Homo sapiens: one gene and its partners. The protein of the gene in region 2 purifies or fractionates together with the protein of the main gene of each other region. This does not show direct contact. Each region holds a gene or a part of one and is shown on either strand. Other genes may lie near its edges.

Region 1 (3,519 bases), on a different chromosome or scaffold from region 2:
AGAGGCTGGCTCCATCTGCCATCAATGGGAAGATGAGTTACCAAAACCACCAGGCCCACTGTGGCATCCCATCACGTTCCTGCCCTACTGTACGTCTACAGGGCAGTCCACAGGTCCCTCTTAGATGTAAGGATGGTGGTCTCAGAGGGCCAGGCCACCTGCTGGAGGCCCGGGCCCACAGCTGTTCTTGGTACCCTGGCACTTCTTCTCCTGGCGCAGGCTGCTGAGCAGAGGGGCACAGCCCCTGTGGCTGCCATGTTGAGAACAGATGGGAAAGCTGGGCAACTAAAGCCTGCATCATGGCCCCAATGAGCAGCGATCACTTTGAGGGACATTCTGCATTTCTGACTCCTCCATTTCTTACACCTCAGGTTTCTACTGATAGCCAGGACCACTCCTGCCTGTCCCTCCCCATCCTGGTCTGTCCCAGATGATGTCGTTCCGTGACTCACAAGGACCGGGCCCACGGCGATCCACCACAAAAGCCACTGTCACTGGGATGGCAATGGCTTGGTTGGTCACGGGGCTGGAGAAGGTCAGGGTAGTGGACAGAGGCCCTTGGCTGCCAGCCGCGGGGTCCAAGACGCCGACCGTGTATGTGATGAAGCTGGGCCACCCAAAAGACTTCTCCTTTGCGAATGCCAGCACGGCCGGGGACCCGGATTTCACCTGGAAGAGACATCAGAGCTGGGGGTGCACATTCTGCAGAGTGGGGGGACCACTGAGCGGGGCCTCAGGACCCCGAGGCGGGAGGGCTGCTCTGCATGGCCATCTCTGGAAGCACCCCCGCTTCAGCCTGACATGCTGGGCTTCCCTCCTGGGGCCCAAGGGTACAGGTGGGGACCCCTGCCCAGGTCACATCTCATGGGCAGGTAATGACACCTGGGCACTGCTCATGGACGGCGTGTACTCTGCAGAGTCGGGAAGCCCTGTCCATACTCAGGGTGTTTTTTGAGGGAAGGACAAATCAATATGAATGTCAGAATCAAATTCAAGCTCATTTAATTCTAATCAACTGCTGCTTACAAAAAGGCTAAACCAGGCTGGGCGCGGTTGCTCACGCCTGTAATCTCAACACTTTGGGAGGCTGAGGCGGGCAGATCATGAGGTCAGGAGATCGAGACCAGCCTGGCTAACACGGTGAGACCCTGTCTCTATTAAAAAAACAAAAAATTAGCCGGATGTGGTGGCAGGCGCCTGTAGTCCCAGCTACTCAGGAGGCAAGGGTGGGAGAATGGCATGAACCCGGGAGGTGGAGATTGCAGTGAGCCAAGATAGTGCCACTGCACTCCAACCTGGGCGACAGAGCGAGACTCCGTCTCAAAAAAAAAAAAAAAAAAACTTTGGGAGGCCAAAGTGGGCAGATCACAAGGTCAGGAGATCGAGACCATCCTGGCTAACATGGTGAAACCCCGTCTCTACTAAAAAAAAATTAGCCAGGTGTGGTGGCAGGCACCTATAGTCCCAGCTACTTGGGAGGCTGAGGTAGGAGAATGGCATGAACCTGGGAGGTAGAACTTGCAGTGAGCCCAGATTGCGCCACTGCACTCCAGCCTGGGCGACAGAGCAAGACTCCATCTCAAAAAAAAAAAAAAAGGCTAAACCAACATGAAGTATCACCAAGCACCAGCTCTCCAAGGTAGCAGCCCGAGCTCTGCTCACGCCGCCAGCGGGCTGGCCCTCCTCCCTCATCAGCGATGCTGAGCATTCCCTGCCTCTGCAGAACATGCGATCACGCTGGCTGCAGCAAGGCAGGAGGAGCAGGCGGAAATGCCGAGGAACTCCTTGGTTCTCTCACCCCCGAACTCTTCCCAGCCTGCCAGGCTCTGGGCCTGAGGGATCATTCACCCACCAATCCCACCCCGTGACTTAGTCATGGGGGAAGTGAGGCCTGGAGAGAGGGGACTTGTCCCAGCAGGGATTAGGGCTTTCCTCCCTGCTCTGTGGCAGATGCTCCTGCACTGAATTCTGCGATGCCACGCACCACACGCTCACTGGCACCTTTTCTGGGGTTCTCACTGCTGCCCCCACAAGCTTAACTTGTAGCTGGGGAAGACCAGCAGCGGTCAGAACAATTAATACAATCACGCAGCCTGAGAGACAGCAACAGTGCTATGGAAAAAGAAAAGAGTACTTCAATTTAAAAATTCTAATTGTAAAAATAAATTTTAAAGAGAGCTGGCCCAGGACATCCACACCACATTCCCTCTTCCTCCAGGGCCTTCCTGATGCCCCTGACTCCGGCCTGGCCTGAGGCATGCAGATGCCACTCACCTCCAAGTTCTCCAGAACCTCCGGGGCACCAAAGACCCTGATCTCGGAACTGGTGTAGTGGTTGCTCAAAAGGATTTCAGCCTGGTCGGCGAAGAGACCTGGGCTGAAGGGCACCTCGGCCCCCACCTGCTCTGTGGAGAAGTGGCTGCTGGAGAGGGAGGCACTGACCACCAGAGCTGTCTTCTTCATGCTCAGGTGCTTCCGCTGCTTGTCCGTCAGCCTGTGCATTGTGATTGAGCAGAAGTACTGGCCTGCGAAGACAAGGGTGTATTGTCTTGTCCCCTCTCCTGCCCGTGCACTGATGTCATTTCTTCTCCCTGCTTCTCTAACCAGGGGATTCCTATGCATCCTCCAAAGCCCAGGTGAGAAGTCACCTCCTCCAGGAGTCCTCCTGGGAATCCCCTATAAAGGCCTTGGCCAAGCTAGGATACCCTCTGTGACCAGCAGTCCTCCCAAGTCCCCCTGGCGTCAATCCCCAGGCTGGGCTCCTGACAATCTCTGCCCTCTGGACAGACGGCCATGGTGAGCTGGGCACGTGGAAGCCGCAAGATGCCCAGAAGACAGAGACTGTCTCCAAGTCCCTTTCACTTTCAAATCCTCGCAATTACCGAGAGCAGTGTCAAACTGTGGCTCCACGGTGAACACATCTTGAGATGGGAAATCAAAGACGGCCGGCTTGAACTGGGACTGGCAGCTGATGAGGGTCTCTGGGTGCAAGGCCTGGATGACTTCCCTCTGGGTGGGGGTGCACTCGCCTAGAGAGGGGAGAGACGAGAGGGTGTGGGCCAGGCCCGATGGCCACCACACCAAATTCCACCAGGCCTGCACAGGCTGGCTGGGCTGCAAATGCCACCTGCCCCTGCATGTCTTCCAGCAGGGCCCCAGGGCGGCTCAAAGCTTTGAGATGCAGCCAGGATTGGTAAAGCCAAGGACATATCATATGGAAGAGGATGCCATCGGCATCACAGGGAGCTTCAAGTCAGAATTTCAGCATTTGTTCCAGACCTTGCATCCAGGGGCACGGCAGACGGGCTAGGCCCACTAATGCCTGTCTTCTGTCCCTGTCAGCAGGGGAAACGGCAATTTACTTCTGCACATTCAGAGGGCACTAGTTCTCCACTAACATCTGAGCAGCATTTAGGCAACGGCACAGTGCTGTCCACTTGCGCTGAGGAAGGAGCAGAGGCTGCCATGATGGAACAGAGCTGCCTCGTTAATCAGGACGAGAAGGGCGGTGCTTCACTC
Region 2 (4,094 bases):
GAGTCACAAGTTGTTTCCCCACGGATCAGGCCCCAGACCTCAGATGCCCCTGAAGCTCAGGACTGCTGTTCCAGCTATCTGGTCTCAGAGTATCTGACAATGACAGACCCATCTCAGGAGGTGTCAGGGAGACCATGGACGCAAACCTCCATCTGTCAGCTCCAACCTTGGGTTAACTTTCTCGTTGGAAGAGCTAACTGCTTTCTTACTCAAGATCCTCTGCTCAGAGCCACCTGTGCTCTATGGTGATCCCACTCCTTTTTTTTTTGAGACAGAGTCTTGCTCTGTCACCCATGGTCCAGGCTGGAGTGCAGTGGCGTGATCTTGGCTCACTGCAACCTCCACATCCCGGGTTCAAGTGATTCTCCTGCCTCAGCCTCCTGCGTAGCTGGGATTACAGGCGTGCACCACTACGCCCAGCTAAGTTTTTGTATTTTTAGTAGAGACGAGGTCTCACCATGTTGCCCAGGCTGGTCTCGAACTCCTGAGCTCAGGCAATCTGCCCACTTTGTCCTTCCAAAGTGCTAGGATTATAGGCATGAGCCACCATGCCCGGCCCCACTCCTTTTTTGCAAACACCAAGTATTGCCCGTCCCAAAGCAAGTGTCCAGAGTACACATAGAAGCAGAGTTGTAAGTCCTAGAGCCTGTGAACAGGTCATGAGCTTTCCCTCTACCCAGCTCCAAATTCTTGCCCTTCCTCCCTCTGACCTCCCTTAAGTCCAGAGTCACAGCTACCGCCAAGCAATGCAGCCCAGTGGAGAGAGAGAGGCTTTCAGAGCTGGGTCCCCCTTCTCCAATTTCTTCCTCAAAAGGTCTATTTTCCCACACTCTTTGCAGGGTACCTCTGAGCTCATCCCAGCAAAAGTGGCAGGAGCAAAGCCCCTCAGGAAGGAGCTAGGGGGTGGGGGCCAGCACCCTGACTTCCAGACCGCTTCCCTGGCCCGGGGTTCTATGTTATTCTTCCTGGATTGGCTGTAGGTGATCTCTAGGCTCTCATTTTCAGGCAGGTGGCCAGTTGGACCATCCAGCAGAAGGGGGAGAGAGTGTGGCTGTTCCACTGGAGTCTTCTTCAGGCCCCTCTCCCACTCCTCCCTGCAATGCGGCTAGAACTTGAGGAGGTAGAGGTTTCACCCCAATCATCTGGGCCTCCTGCCTTGAGGACCAGGCCAGTTCTTGGCACCTACTGGCCTGATTCCACCTGGGCTGTGCTCCCTGAGAATGGCATTATTTCTGATACTGGCTTCTTCTTGTGTGTTTCTATCCCCAAGACCACAGGGCCTCCCCAGGTGCCTTCAGAAAACCGAAGTATTCCCACTGCTTCTGGCCCAAAGGTTCCTGCCCCCAGGCTCAGAGTGCTAGATTTAGGGTCACTGTGGGCCTGGTTGTCAAATCCCACCCACTTCTGGTGCCCCTTCAAGAGCTCTTGGAATCTCCACCTCCCTTCCAGCAGACCATCAAAAGGTCAGGCTCCCCCACCCAACCTGGCACCCCAGATTCTGTCCTTTCCATCCATACCCCTACCATGACTTTAGGGTCATGACTCGATTTCACTCTTCTGCTGTTTTGCTTCCAGGGTGCCCAATCCTGACACTTCCGCTGGAATGAGCTCGAGGTACTCTGCAAAGAGCCTGGGAAAATGACCTTCCAGAGGACTCCAATCTTTTTTTTTCCCGTTAGCCCTGTCCAGTTCTTTCTGCGCCCCAGATTTGCCCCTGTCTCCTCGCCTCCCTTCCGTGTGTATTCCAGCTCCTGTCCCAGCCACCGCTGCAGACAGTGGACCTCCCAGATTCAAATTCCCAGCCCGACCCCACGCTCACCGCCGCCGTTCTTGTAGCAGAGGTAGGGGAAGCGCCACACGTTGGCCAGGTCCACTGCGAAGCCGACTACGGACAGCAGGAAGTCGATCTTCTTGCCCCAGGTCTCCCGGGGCTGCGCGTCGCCGTCGCGGGGCGCCAGCAGGCACTGGACGCCGTTGCGCTCCTTCACCACCAGCAGCTCCGCAGTTTTGCGCGCCCGAAGGGGCTGCTCTGGACCCGTGTCCGCCCCGTTGTTCTCGGGCTGCACCTGCGGGTTCATCCGCGCCAGAAGCATGGATGCGGCTGGCGAGAGGAACTTTACCGGTCCTGGGGGCACGCCGAGGCTCTGCTTGGATAAAGGGAAAAGAGGTGGTTACCCGGCCGTTCCTCCCTACTTGCAACTCCCAAGACCACCCGGGAGCGCCTTAGACACTGGGATGAGCGCGCGCTGAGCGGACGCAGGGTTCCCAGAAAAGGGCGCGCGTCCGCTGGAAAAATTTGGAAACAGAGGTTGGGGCACGCCGGAACTCAAGAGTTGGAGACTTCTGACAGCCCTCTGGGGGCGGCTGAAGACCCTGCAGCACTTTTCCTCGTTCACCCACTCTCGCCTGCCCCAAATGGCTGGGATTGAACTCACCGAGGCTGAGGGCAGCGTGCCGACCCCCTCCCCAGCTCAGGTCCGCGACACTTCAACAGCCACAGGAGCCTTCTCGGACACTTAACGTCACTGCACTACAAACTCGCTAGCCCTCTGCTGGCGCGTCTCGGCCCGGGCCTCCCAGGCAGACCTAGCCCTGTCCCGCGCTCAGGGCGCACTCACGTGTCCGGCGGCGAGGGGATCCCTGGTGCCTTGCGCCCTGCCGGCCCCCGACCGGCGGCGCCTTGGCAGGCTCTAGGGCGCGGGCTGGGGCTGGGCTCCGCCGTGTGGCGTTCGGGCGGGGCCGGGGAAGAGCTGGAGGCGCGGGGCGGCCGGCAGGGCGCGGGCTGACTGGTTCTGGCCGTGCCTGGCGGGGGCCGGGCTGGTAATGTAGCCTGCGCCCCAGGTAACGCGCCGATTGCATTAACCCAGCGCCCGGCCCGCTCCGTCTGGAGCCTGTTAGCGCTAATGGAGACTGACAGCGCGGCCGGGGATGGGCAGGGGCGGGAGGGTGGCGCGGGTTCCCAGGGATCTGGGGGACTCGGGCGCGCACTCCCTTTCTATCCTGCGCCGAGCACCGCTCGCCGCTCCCAAGGACACCAGGCCTCTGATCTCCCACCACGGGGAGCGAGTGACAGACTCTCCAGAACTGGGGTCTGCGTCGCGTCAGAAAGGAGGCCAAAAAAGGACTGGGGAAGCAGCGACCGGTGCAGCACCAGCTCTGTCTTCCGCAGCAGGCCACTTAAACTATCTGGTCAGTTTCTTTATCAACGAAATGGGAATGTGCGGCTCAGGGCCCAGTGCTGCAAATAGGCGGCCAGCGGGCTGTTGGGCAGTTTTGTTTGAGCGGCTTAGCATGTTGACAGGTCACAGCCCAGCACTTACTCCTGCATCTCTGTTATTTATGGGCAGGGTAGCAGGTCATTTGAGGTTGTGACCCGTGTTCTGTGAGGCTGAGAACTACTATTTATTCTTTCAATTATTCATTCATTCACACCTTCACACATTTGTTCTTCCATATGCCCGCTGTGTGCCAGGCACTGTTCCGGGCTCTTGGATTACACTGGCGCAACATAACTCGGAGATTCCTGACCTCATGGAGTTTACATTCTGCTGGCGGAGACAGAGGAAACGGGAAACATAATAAATACACACGTTATATGATGGGTGAGGGAATGGGGGGACAGTGGGGCTGCAGTTTGCATACGGGGTCAGGGAATTTGAGAAGGTAACAATTAGACAAGTAAAGGAGTGAGCCATTTGGACCTGAGAGTCGTTTTCTCATTCATTCACTCATCTATTGATTAATGTATTAATCCCTTTAGCAGATGCTGATCATCTGCTGTGTGCGTGAACAGTGCTGGCTAGAGAGGAGATAGCCCCTGCCTTCAAGGAGCTCCCAGACCAGTGTATAGAGTCTATCACAACCCAGTGTGGTCAGGATGTGTTGTGACCACAGATGTGTGGAAGTAGGGTGGAGCTGAATCAGCAAGGGAAGCATCCTGTTGATCCAAGGAGGCTTCAGAGAGGTGGCCGTGCTAAGTGGGTTGGGTGGGGCTTGGATCAGCCCAGCCACACTGACCTTTCCATTCTGTAAACATCCTAAGCTCAAACCCACCCCAAGACCTTTACACTTGCTGTTTTCTCTGCCTGAGTTGT
Region 3 (3,380 bases), on a different chromosome or scaffold from region 2:
GCTTTTGAAATAGTTCCATGATGTAGATTAGTAAATATCGATAGTTCTTAAGTTTTATTATAACCTAGTAAGTTTACAAAGTCTCCTGGCTTAAGGTCGGGAGTAGATATCAGATCTGGCAAAAGCAGCTTAGATGTGATAGGCTGATTGCACTAGATTGAACTTGGTGCTGTTTCTCTTAGGTTTTAACAGGACACATCAGGACTGAGCAACCAAGTAAGTCCAAGTTATTACAATTCATGTTGTTTTTTTCTCCTAAAACAGTAAATATTTCGGCCTTTGTGGACCATAGGTCTGTCTCAACTACTGAATTCTGCCATTGTAGTGAGAAAGCACCCACAGACGATTTGTAAACAAATGGGCATAGTATTTTTTTTAAAAAAAAAAAAACCTAAAACATTAAAAAAATTTTAAACTTGTTGGCCGTACAAACAGGCAGTGGGGTGGGGTTTGGCCTGTAGGTTGTAGTTCTCTGCCCTGCTCATGTCTATTTCCCAAAACATTTTTTAAACCATACAGGCGTTTAAAAACAAAATCTACAATCTGTACAACCTCATTTTAAGTGACTAAGCTTTTTCAGTGTATGCCAATACATGCATAAAACAGGTAGTTCTGTCTAGTAGTGTTCTGCCTTTTTCAATCACTATTGAAAGGACTCCCTGTGGCAGCACATAGCTCTTTGGTAACCACAAAGTATCCAGTAAATAGATTGCCATGACTTAATCACATTTGAATATTAAATTGGTACCAGTTTCATAAATCCTACAACACACATATTTGACCATAGCTTGGTTGTGCAACTTGTCCATTTGTTGACTAGACTCCCAGGAGTGGAACTGTTGGGTGAAAGGGTATGTATGCAGCTGTGATAAAATACTACTCAGTAGCTCTCCGACAGGCTGTATCAGTTTCCACTCAGATCCTTACGCAAATGTCATTTCTAATGACTGTAATATTACACCATATGGATATATTGCAAGTTAACCATTACAAATCCTTTGCTGCTGAGCATTTTATTTTAATGGCTTTTCACTCTAGTGCCTTGTCTTGGTATATGTCTTTGTCCACATTCCCGTAGATACGTTGAATTCCTAGTATATTTACTTCGTCAATAGGCATGTTTCTTAAGGTTGATAAATAATGATGGCCAAATGAAAGTACTTCACTAACATGAATTTGAGGAAAAGTTGAGAAAAGCAGGAAAATTTACTTCCATTGTCTGATACTGATTAGCATCAGGAGAGTGGGAGTCTACATATTGGGAGATGTTTGTCAAATGTTACAAAAATGCATTAAGAGTAATACCGGGTTATCAGAATTTGCTGAAATCATATCAAGGTGGAAGAATTAGAGAATAGTTCCCTGGCTAGAAGACGTTGAACCTTTGAGTGTTTAGGTCTTTGCTATAATGTCTTGCTTGCTAAGATAGGCCTTAATGGCCCTCTCATCGTACTGCTAGAATTTAGCCAGTGGCACCAGTCAGGAAGGTATTAAAGTAGCACCAGCGATAGATTACTTTTCATCCTGACTTTTGTCCTAGAGCTCCATAAAATGTGCATTTGGTGGGGGAAATCACGTCTACAAATAAAATTGTATTGCTTTTGAAGATGGTATAAGTCTATAGATAAAAAAGCTGTAAAACCTTGAAAAATACTGAAGGATGTAAAAACACCAAGATAGGCCAGGTGCGGTGGTTCACGCCCATAATCCCAGCACTTAGGGAGGCCGAGGCAGGCGGATCACGAGGTCAGGAGTTTGAGACCAGCCTGGCCAATATGGTGAAACCCCGTCTCTACTAAAAATACAAAAAAATTAGCCGGGCGTGGTGGCAGGCGCCTGTGATCCCAGCTCCTCGGGAGGATGAGGCAGGAGAATCGCTTGAACCTGGCAGGCGGAGGTTACAGTAAGCTGAGATTGCACCACTGCACTCCAGCCTGGGCGACAGTGTGAGATGCTGTCTCAAAAAAACAAACAAAAAAGCCAAAACTACACCAAGATAAATCACTTATCTCTACCCCACTAGAATATAAGCTCTTTGAGATTAGAAAATTGTTTTGTGCTCTTATCACAAATACTAGGCATAAAGAAGATGCTTATTATTGAACAGCAAATGCTTAAAAAGACCTGCAGGCCAGACGAGGTGGCTCATGCCAATCATCCTAGCACTTTGAGAAGGCTGAGGCTGGAGGACTGCTTAAGCCTAGGAGTTTGAGACCAGCCTGGGCAACACAGCAAGACCCCATCTCTACCAAAAAAAAAAAAAAATTAAAGAGTCCTATAGAGAATTCTTATACTCCAATGTGAAGACAACATTGGAAAGGGCCAAGTTTCTCATGCCCTCCAACTAAGAAACCCCTAATAAAAAATGAAGTGACACTTGAACAGGACTTAAGGATTCTACAGTTGGTCTTTGGCAGCAGTATGTTTTAGGAAATGTAATGCGGCGGGTGGGGCGGTGACTTAGCCAGTTATGCTTTTAAATGGAACTGCAATAATAAAAGTGATACTAGTGCAGAAAGTATCTGTATTAGAATTCTAGAGTAAGTCAAGAGCTCACATTCATTAAAATAATGACACAACTCCACGGGGGTGGGGAGAACAGCAGTAAAGCAACCACATACTATACTATTAGACTGGCAACATTGAGACTGAAAATATCCATGAGGAGAATACTGACATCTTAGTGGTAAGCATTTCCTTTTAACCCGGTAATTCCAGTAGTAAGGATCATACAAATGTACCGCTAGGAAGAGGTAACGTATATGATCATCAATGGGAGAACAGTAAAGGTGTTACTGTGGAATTCCCGACAGGCTTTCACTTGGAGGGGGAATATTTGAACACAAGTTTAAACAACCCAGGGTAAGCACACAATGCACTATGCACTGAAAGGTATACGTTTCCGCTGGGTGTTTATACATTTCAAAGTTAAAAGCATACACCTTACCCAAAGTTTCAGAAACCTGGTTTGCAAATCTGAGTTCATGTGTGTGTGTTTTTGTTTTTTTTTTAAAGCCATGATCATTTTTTCCATTTTTATTTGATGTTTCCAAATATAAAAAAGTCAGGATTCTTACATCAATTATCTCAAATGAGACCATGCAAAGCAATTCAGTGTATACAACAATCATTTTTCCCCTTCAGTTCTGCTGCTTTATACAACAGTGTGATTGACAGAAAATTGGATGGCATGTGCCTGGTCAGAAAATGTCATCTGTTTACAAAATAACATCATGCAGCACAGTTTCTACTTTGTCTGCAAGTCAATTCACAAAAACTACTTATTTTCTGTTTTTTATTTGGGAGGCACATGGAACTGAAAAATTTAGCTGCCCAATTTTATTCAACTACCCCACCAAAAAAAAAAAAAAAAAATCACA
Region 4 (3,519 bases), on a different chromosome or scaffold from region 2:
TGCAGACACATTATCTATGCCACTTACTTAACAATTATGTACTCTGTATTATTAATCATGTCTTTGATGTTTACAGTCTTTTATCAGCAACTACATTGCAAGCCTTGAAGACCTGGGTTCTGTCTTATCCTTGTAGTATATGTCTCTCTCACGCACACACACACATTCAGCACTTAACACAATGAGTTGTACAGAAGTAGCACTCAGTATTTGTTGATTTTAGAAAGCAAACTCAACTTCATCCTACCATCTGCATTTTTCATATATCTGCATTTTTTTTTTTACCTGCTAGTTTATCATTGCTTTAGTTCTGTGGGTCCTACTATGAATAGCTTTATTCATAAAGTCCAAAGCCGAGGGGAACTCTGTAGGATGACAAATTTGGTACAAGGGAAGGAATCCTTCTTAACTCCACAGTGCACCTGGCATTCCTGTAACATCTGTGGCTTTTCCTTTGACAAGGACATAGTTTTACGTTGTAAGACTAATGCCTAAAACTCCCCCAGCGCCACTGTAACTCTTACCTTCCTTTGGCACTAATGTAATGGGAAGAAAGCCTCAACAGGGAGCTAGGACCTGAGTTCTAGTCCTGGGCCTATAACTCAGTGACCCTGGGCAAGTCATCTAACCTTTCTGGGTCACACTTTCAATATTTCAGAAAGGGGGAGGGTTATACAAGATCATTAGAGCTGTTTTATCATCTTCACAAAGGCAGCTGTTTAAAGCGAGAAAGTTATTGAGGTGAAATCTTTATGGCTTGTAATGTCACCCTTTGTCCTTAGTTCTGCCTTCTTAGTCACTTGGTAGACAAAGCAGAGACACAATACTGTCTGGTCAGGGATTCTTGCATTAGGGAGAAGGGAGAGGTCCTCTCGTCTCATCAAGTTTTGTGATTGTCACTCATATGTGTGTGTGTGCGTATGTGTGTATACATATATACGTATATATACGTATATATGTATATATATACGTATATATATGTGTGTATATATGTATATATATATTTTTTTTTTTTTGAGAGAGAGGGTCTTGTTCTCTCGCTCAGGCTGGAGTATGGTGGTGCAGTTATAGCTCCCTGCAGCCTTTAACTCCTGAGCTCAAGTGATCCTCTCCCCTCAGTCTTCCCAGTAGCTAGGGCTAGAGGTGTGCACCACCACGCCCAGCTAACTTTTTATTTTTTGTAGAGATGGGGTCTTGCTATGTTGCCCAGGCTGGTCTGAAACTCCTGGCCTCAAGTAATCTTCTTATCTTGGCTTCCGAAAGTGCTGGGATTACTGGCGTGAGCCGCCACACCCAGCCTTAAAAATTTTTTTTGGATTGTTACTCTTAATGCATCCCCAGTAGGTCTGTGTTCTTCTCCTTCAGATGCTGGGTGGTTCTTGTATGCTTCGGAGAATACTTGGGGATTTACTCCTTTGGTGGGGGCTCTTGCCACCCCATACATGTACACTAGGTAGATAAATATCTCTGCCCATGAACTGGGTGAAGCAGCCTCTCCCCCAGCCACTCCAGGGAGAGGTAGAGGTGGTAGAACAGGCAAGTCTCTTGCCCAGCTCCACCCTTTGAGAATGTGGCAGGGCTGAAACCCAAATATCTGACTCTGTGATGTGCCAGGCATATCCACTTACGTTCTGGAATCTCAAGCTCGGGGTGGACAGACCCAGGGCCCTGTTTGGGGCTGGTTGGGCTTGGCACTGTGGTTGCAAGAGAGTCTGCTTCTTGTGTGGGCTGTGTGGCTATTCTTGAGGGAGTAATTGGGCAACTTCTCCATTTGCTCAGTAAGTATGTACTGAGTGCCAAGCACCCTGCTGGCTGTGAACAGACGTGGTCCTTGGCCACATGGAGCTTACAGTCTTGTAGGGGGCAGACAGTAAACACATAGTCATGCAAATTACACATGATCATACATAGAATTATGTAGTATTATATATGCTGGTGACTCCTCCCACATTTATAATTTCAGCCCATTCTCTGCAACTTCAGCCTTGGATATTCTGCTGCCTGCTCACCACACCTGCTGTCTAAAAGGCTTCCTAGTTTAACGTGTCCAAAACAGAATGAACCCCCATCCCATCCCTGTACCTCCCAAAGTCTTTCCCATCCCAGTTCATGATGATTTCATCCTTCCGCTTGCCAAGGCCCCTAAAATTCTCGTCGTCCCTGACTTCTCCCTTTCTCTCACACTTCACATCCATTTAATCAATAAATCCTGTTGGTTTTGCCTTAAATATGTCCCGAACCTGACTCTGACCATCTCCACCACTTTCACCCTGGTCTGAGCTACCACTGGCCTGTGAACTCACCTTCCTGCTTCCTCCCTTGTCTCCCGACAGACTATTTCCATCCCACTAGCCAGCGTGATACTCTAAACTGTAAGTCAGATTTCATTACTCCTTTGCTCAAGCCTCCTGTGACACTGCATCTCATTCAAGACTTCTTGTGTTGGTCTACAAGATATGATATGATTTTCACCTGCTCACCTTTCTTAAGCCATCTCATGCTCTCCATCACCTTGTTCAACCCCCCGATATCTGAATGGGTCCCTCTCTCTCCTTGTCCCAGTCTCCTATTTAAGGAATCAAACCCTCCCAGGCCATTTCATTTAAAATTATCCCCTTCCCTCTATCACCTGCTCTCGGCATTATGTACCTCCCTTTCCTGTTTTATTTTGTTCCATTGCTTATGTCATCCTCTGATATTGGTTGTCTCCCCTTGCTCCATGTTGTCAGAGATTTTTATTTGTTCACTCTGTGATACCAAGAGCAGTGCCTGGTAAATAGTTGTTGGATAAAACTAGAGTTGGTGAAGTCTATAGAAAAGCATAAGTGAACACGTCTGATTGATCTCCTACCTTAGATGGGTGTTAAGGCAGGTATCTTAATGAAGGGACTTAAACTGCAACCTCAGAGTGGTGTTCTATCTCTGGGACTGGCTTCTCTCTTGCCCCAGGCTTGCGTAAGTTCTTAGATACCTGGGATATATATGACTCCTGTGGTTTGGGTGCCTCTTGCTGGGAGATACCAGGGCTGAAGCAGGAGGGCAAAGTGAAGCTCACTATTGGGGTCCTAACCAGGCAGTAGCACCTTCTTGCCATTTTATGTGTGCACCTATGTCAGAGTGGACCCCCCTCTTCCAGGCACACGTGATGTTTGTAGTCCTTAACTCGCAGGGCAGGGATAGGGTGGCCTAATAGACTACAAGGGAGGAAGTTAGGTGATGTGGATTCCAGGCATCTCTTACCCATCAACTTGCTGGAGAATTTTTAGAATCATAGAATTTTAGAGCTGAAAAGGAACCTAAAGATTTCTATAACCTCTTTTTTCTTACCCAGCCATTAGAAAGAGAACAAAGGTATGTCTGTCCCCTGCCTAGTTCACAGAAACATGGTGCAACCTACATAAAAACTGCATGTGCTCCTTTAAGTTGTGAGTGTGTGGAGGTCAAGATATTATAGGGAAGTGGTTGAGGTCAAGTGTATTCAAAGGAGAGGAGGTCTAGTCTCTGCCACTTTCTTGAGTG
Region 5 (4,170 bases), on a different chromosome or scaffold from region 2:
ATGTTAAGCCATCCTGAATGTCTGAAATGGGGGGTGGGGAGCAAGAGGGATAGTCCAGACAGGCAGGAAGGCGTGAGATCATACAGTACTTTGTTAACACTATCCCTGATTTAATAGCTGTATTGGCTATTCTCAATGACACAGAATGAAGTAAAATGTTGTCGAGGCCTGAATTATTACCTGGGATCTCTGGAGAACTGGATTTGCACAGCTCTCCACTTCCCTCAAGCTGGTTCTTCCGCTCTTTGAATGAATAAATAAAAAGCATTCACATGGAATTCTAGTGCCATCTAGCATTTAAAAAGGTAAAAGCCTCCAAGAGGAAATTATTTCTTAACACTGCATTTTGAACATGGCTTTTCCAGAGATAATTCCTCGTGCCACTGGTAACGGGCTTTGATTTCTTCTGCCTGTCACTTCCTCCAGATTCGATTCCTCTTTGAATCTCAAATGCTCTCACAAGATTCAGCTCTTCCCTTTTGAAGCAATTATTACGTTTGATAATTTTACGTCTATTTTATGATGATGATCTGATTAAAGTCATCTTTCCCACTAGTTTAATTTCTATAAGGAGGGGCCTTGTCTGTGATTTGCCCACCATCGTCTCCCAGCACCTGGGAACATTTCTGGTTTCCTGCAATACTGTTGAAAGAACAATGCCTCTCTATGCTTTCTTAAACTTTGTTAGTGATAATTTCTACTTCTACCTGGACTTTACTTAAGGGTAATCCTTAATAAACTTTATCAAAACTTAATAAACTTTATCAAAACTTAATAAACTTTATCAAATGTCTGTTGTAATCGTCACAAAAAGATTTAATACTCAACATCTGGCCTTAACCAGAGGGAAACATTTTCTAGCCCAAGTTTTCCCCTTAACCGGCTGAGTCGGGGAAGGATGTAATTTTCAGGCAGAGGTGACTTCGTTCCAAGGGTGTGAATGCATTATTTTTGACGCTGCCTGTAAGAGCAGGGTCGCTGACACTGAATAAACAGCGCTATCCTCTCCAACGATAAAAGTGGCCAACATCTCGTGCTAGCAATTCCCAAGTGCGTCATGAGCATCCCCGTCCTCAGAAACGTGAGACGAAGGCGGCATGCGCAGGCACTGGGCTAGACGAGCCCGAGGTTGAACCACTCGCGTTCTGGGCCCCGGAGTCCGAGACAGGCGGGGACCCCGGCAGCTCCCGGTGCTATCTCTGAGCGGGTTCCGAGCCCCACTTCCGGGCGGTCAGAATTAGCCTCAGAGCGCCGAGCAACGACGCGCCGGGGACCTCCCGCCCATGAGGCCGGAAGGGGCGGGGAGAACGCTGCGGAATGGTCCCTGGGCGCAACGTCATTTCCGCGTACGGGGGAGGGCGGGCCTGGAGTCTGAGCCGGCGCCGCTCAGTGTGAGGTGGTTTCTGCGGGTGAGGCTGGCGCCCGTACCATGAGCGAGGCGGACGGGCTGCGACAGCGCCGGCCCCTGCGGCCGCAGGTCGTCACAGACGATGATGGCCAGGCCCCGGAGGCTAAGGACGGCAGGTAGGGCGGACTCCCAGACTGGGCGCTGGAGCCGGGCCGCTAGGAGTGGAGGGCGACCCTCTTGGACAGCGGCGACGGCAGTAACAGTAACCTGGGGATGCGGTGCCGAGCGCGTTGTCAGAGTCCTCTCGTTTCATCCCCAAGAAAAACTCATTTTTCCGAGGAAGCAGGCTCCGACAAGGCGGATGTACCTGCCAGGTCTTTCAGGTTCGGGTGCACCCTGCGCCCAGTCGCCGCGTTGTCCTCGGCTCTCCGGACCCGAGACCGCCTCGCGCCGCTCCTTTGCCTTCCCTCCCTCACTCCTGCCCCACCCTGCATAGCGGTTGCTTCCTCGCCTTTCCCTCGCTCCCCTCGCGCTGTCCTTCCTTTGGCTTAAATGATCCCCCTGAGCACAGCTACTTGGCCGGGGCCCTGCGTGTTCCTGGTTCCCCGCTCGCAATTTCCCGAAGGGAGGAGGTCCCACGAGATGCTGGGGTCCTGCCTCGTTATCCGGCGAAGAGATGGCTTCTACACTTGCTCTTCTGCACCTGCCCCCCTCACGCTGCGTGACCAGTCCTCACCGCGGTTCTTGGAAAGAGTGGAGAACAGTAGTGACATTGTAGGCAATTTTTGTGAGAATTCAGCCTGGCAGTTTTTCCTGATAGGGATGGAGAAACATAGGAAACTGTAGTTGTTGACACCTAAGAAATATCAGGTTTTGCCCTTTGCCTCCTCTCCCATCTTTCAGAATATAAGAATGCTGTGTTTTGTTAGCTAAAAACTGAATCATGATTCGTAAGCATAGATTTCAATATAAGATACTTAAAATTCACTTTTCAATTCTGTGTCCTGAATTTCATAACTTTTAAGTTTCAGGGAGAATCAAGAGGCCCCATAGACCAAGCTTGAAGTTGTGGGACTGATTGACTTATATTTGATAGAAATACTGGAAATATTTGTTCATCAGTAGTGTGCCAAGAGGTGGTGGGGTACATATGAATGAGAGGCAGTTTTTGCCCCTGTAGACTGAGTTTATTGACTGATGATAAGAGGAACACATTTGAAGGAGAGCGATGGCAGGAAGGAGCATTTAGGCTCTAGAGAGGCAATTTAGAGAGAAGACTTTGCGGTGATAGTTGACTCCTTGGGCCAGTGAAAAGATCGGGAAGATGCTCCCATATATCCTGACCAACCATCCTGCGTTGCCCTGGACTGGGGTTTCCAAGGATGTAGAACTTTCAGTGCTAAACCTGGGCAAACTGGGACAATCTGATCACCCTACTTACTGTGAATATTGTGAATTAATCATCTGTTGATGATTGAGGAGCCATTTAGAATGGACATGCAAGAATTGGCAACACTTTCCTACAGAAATCTTGAAAACAAGGCATTTTTACCTGAGAAATGGAAGAGCAGTGGCCTGAGTTTGTCATTAGGTGCAGTGTGTTGAAAACCAGGGCCTACAGCCCCTGAGGGCACCGGTTAGGTAGTCCCAACTCTCAAGTTGGCTGGCTCACACTTCTGGCCCCAGGGCAAGCAGGCAGACTTAATTGTTTTTTTCAGGTTCTCTGTGGGGATTTCTTCCTTAATGAGTAAGTAAATCTGATTCTAAAGTCATCTTTTACTGCCTGATCTTTTCCAGTGTGCCTTTTACATTTATGTTTACTTATTTCCTTGACTTCCCTGTCCATGAACATTGTTCCTGTTTCCCTGTGTTTGTCCTTCTTGTTTGTTTATCCCTTTTCTGTATATCTGTAATGATCTCTTTCAAAGTGAGGTCTTGTCACCACCCTTCCTTTCCGCAATTATTATTGTAACATGGTAGCTGTTTTTCTTATTTTTCTTCTGCATTTCTCCTATATTTTTCATTTATTTTGTGGTCATTTCTAGTAGTTCATGTAATAGTATTCTTGATTACCTTAAAAGTCGAGGGTTCAACATAAGCCAGGAAAGCCTGTGTATAGTGGGCGAAGTAAAGGAATCTAAATTCAGAAGTAAAAACACGAAACTATTAGAATAAACTTTAGCACTTTAGATGTGCTAAATAGAATAAAGGAAGCCTTGAAAGACATATTACTAAACTGACAGAACTAAGACATAGATTTTAGCAGTGGTAGGGACCCCTAGTAATACGTTGGGTGGTCTCCCAACTCTTGGCACAAAAGGTGGGTGTTTGCTTTGTTTTGCTGATGAGATCATTGAGGTCTATGTGTGTGAGGTGGTTTATATGAAGTTACAGAGAATAGAGTCAAAAGAGAAATGAAAATGAATGAAGAAGGATAGAACTGGCAGCTGGACAATGACTGAGAAGTGTATTTTTAAAATTATGCTTTGGAAATAAGACTTTATGCCAAAGCTCTTGAATTACTGTATTTGAAATATAATGGAGAATTTGGTTGGTAAATTCTTTTATTCAGTGTGGAACATAGATGAGCTAAGTACTTTAACATACCGGTGCAAGCTTATAATTATTATTTGACATTGATTTCCCGAAATGCTTTAGAAACTTAATTGTACTCTGTGGAACTATTCCTTTCTGTTTGAAACACAGTTCTATCTAGGAAGAGAACTGTTTAATGTCCATATGTGACTGTTTAGGGATGCAGAATAAATACATTGAGGATTTAATATGTTTCAATACATTAAATTCTGTATAATTCTCCTTTT

The links.
Region 1: the proteins of SLC6A2 (region 2) and NUP210 purify together in Homo sapiens (affinity purification with mass spectrometry; one large-scale study listed by BioGRID and IntAct). This does not show direct contact.
Region 3: the proteins of SLC6A2 (region 2) and NUDT4 purify together in Homo sapiens (affinity purification with mass spectrometry, with the first as the bait; one large-scale study listed by BioGRID). This does not show direct contact.
Region 4: the proteins of SLC6A2 (region 2) and UBTD1 purify together in Homo sapiens (affinity purification with mass spectrometry; one large-scale study listed by BioGRID and IntAct). This does not show direct contact.
Region 5: the proteins of SLC6A2 (region 2) and APMAP purify together in Homo sapiens (affinity purification with mass spectrometry; one large-scale study listed by BioGRID and IntAct). This does not show direct contact.

Annotation. Positions count from the first base shown.
Region 1 is NC_000003.12:13,319,311-13,322,829, forward strand, and holds part of NUP210 (nuclear pore membrane glycoprotein 210 precursor), read right to left. Parts: intron 3,030-3,519; coding exon 2,883-3,029; intron 2,526-2,882; coding exon 2,275-2,525; intron 670-2,274; coding exon 453-669; intron 16-452; coding exon 1-15. UniProt on the Homo sapiens protein: Nucleoporin essential for nuclear pore assembly and fusion, nuclear pore spacing, as well as structural integrity.
Region 2 is NC_000016.10:55,654,694-55,658,787, reverse strand, and holds the start of SLC6A2 (sodium-dependent noradrenaline transporter), read right to left. Parts: upstream 2,801-4,094; 5' UTR 2,619-2,800; intron 2,535-2,618; exon of another isoform or gene 2,436-2,534; intron 2,349-2,435; exon of another isoform or gene 2,145-2,348; 5' UTR 2,094-2,144; coding exon 1,820-2,093; intron 1-1,819. UniProt on the Homo sapiens protein: Mediates sodium- and chloride-dependent transport of norepinephrine (also known as noradrenaline), the primary signaling neurotransmitter in the autonomic sympathetic nervous system.
Region 3 is NC_000012.12:93,401,918-93,405,297, reverse strand, and holds part of NUDT4 (diphosphoinositol polyphosphate phosphohydrolase 2), read right to left. Parts: 3' UTR 1-3,380. UniProt on the Homo sapiens protein: Cleaves a beta-phosphate from the diphosphate groups in PP-InsP5 (diphosphoinositol pentakisphosphate), PP-InsP4 and [PP]2-InsP4 (bisdiphosphoinositol tetrakisphosphate), suggesting that it may play a role in signal transduction.
Region 4 is NC_000010.11:97,501,917-97,505,435, forward strand, and holds part of UBTD1 (ubiquitin domain-containing protein 1), read left to right. Parts: intron 1-3,519. UniProt on the Homo sapiens protein: May be involved in the regulation of cellular senescence through a positive feedback loop with TP53. Is a TP53 downstream target gene that increases the stability of TP53 protein by promoting the ubiquitination and degradation of MDM2.
Region 5 is NC_000020.11:24,989,948-24,994,117, reverse strand, and holds the start of APMAP (adipocyte plasma membrane-associated protein), read left to right. Parts: upstream 1-1,366; 5' UTR 1,367-1,429; coding exon 1,430-1,524; intron 1,525-4,170. UniProt on the Homo sapiens protein: Exhibits strong arylesterase activity with beta-naphthyl acetate and phenyl acetate. May play a role in adipocyte differentiation.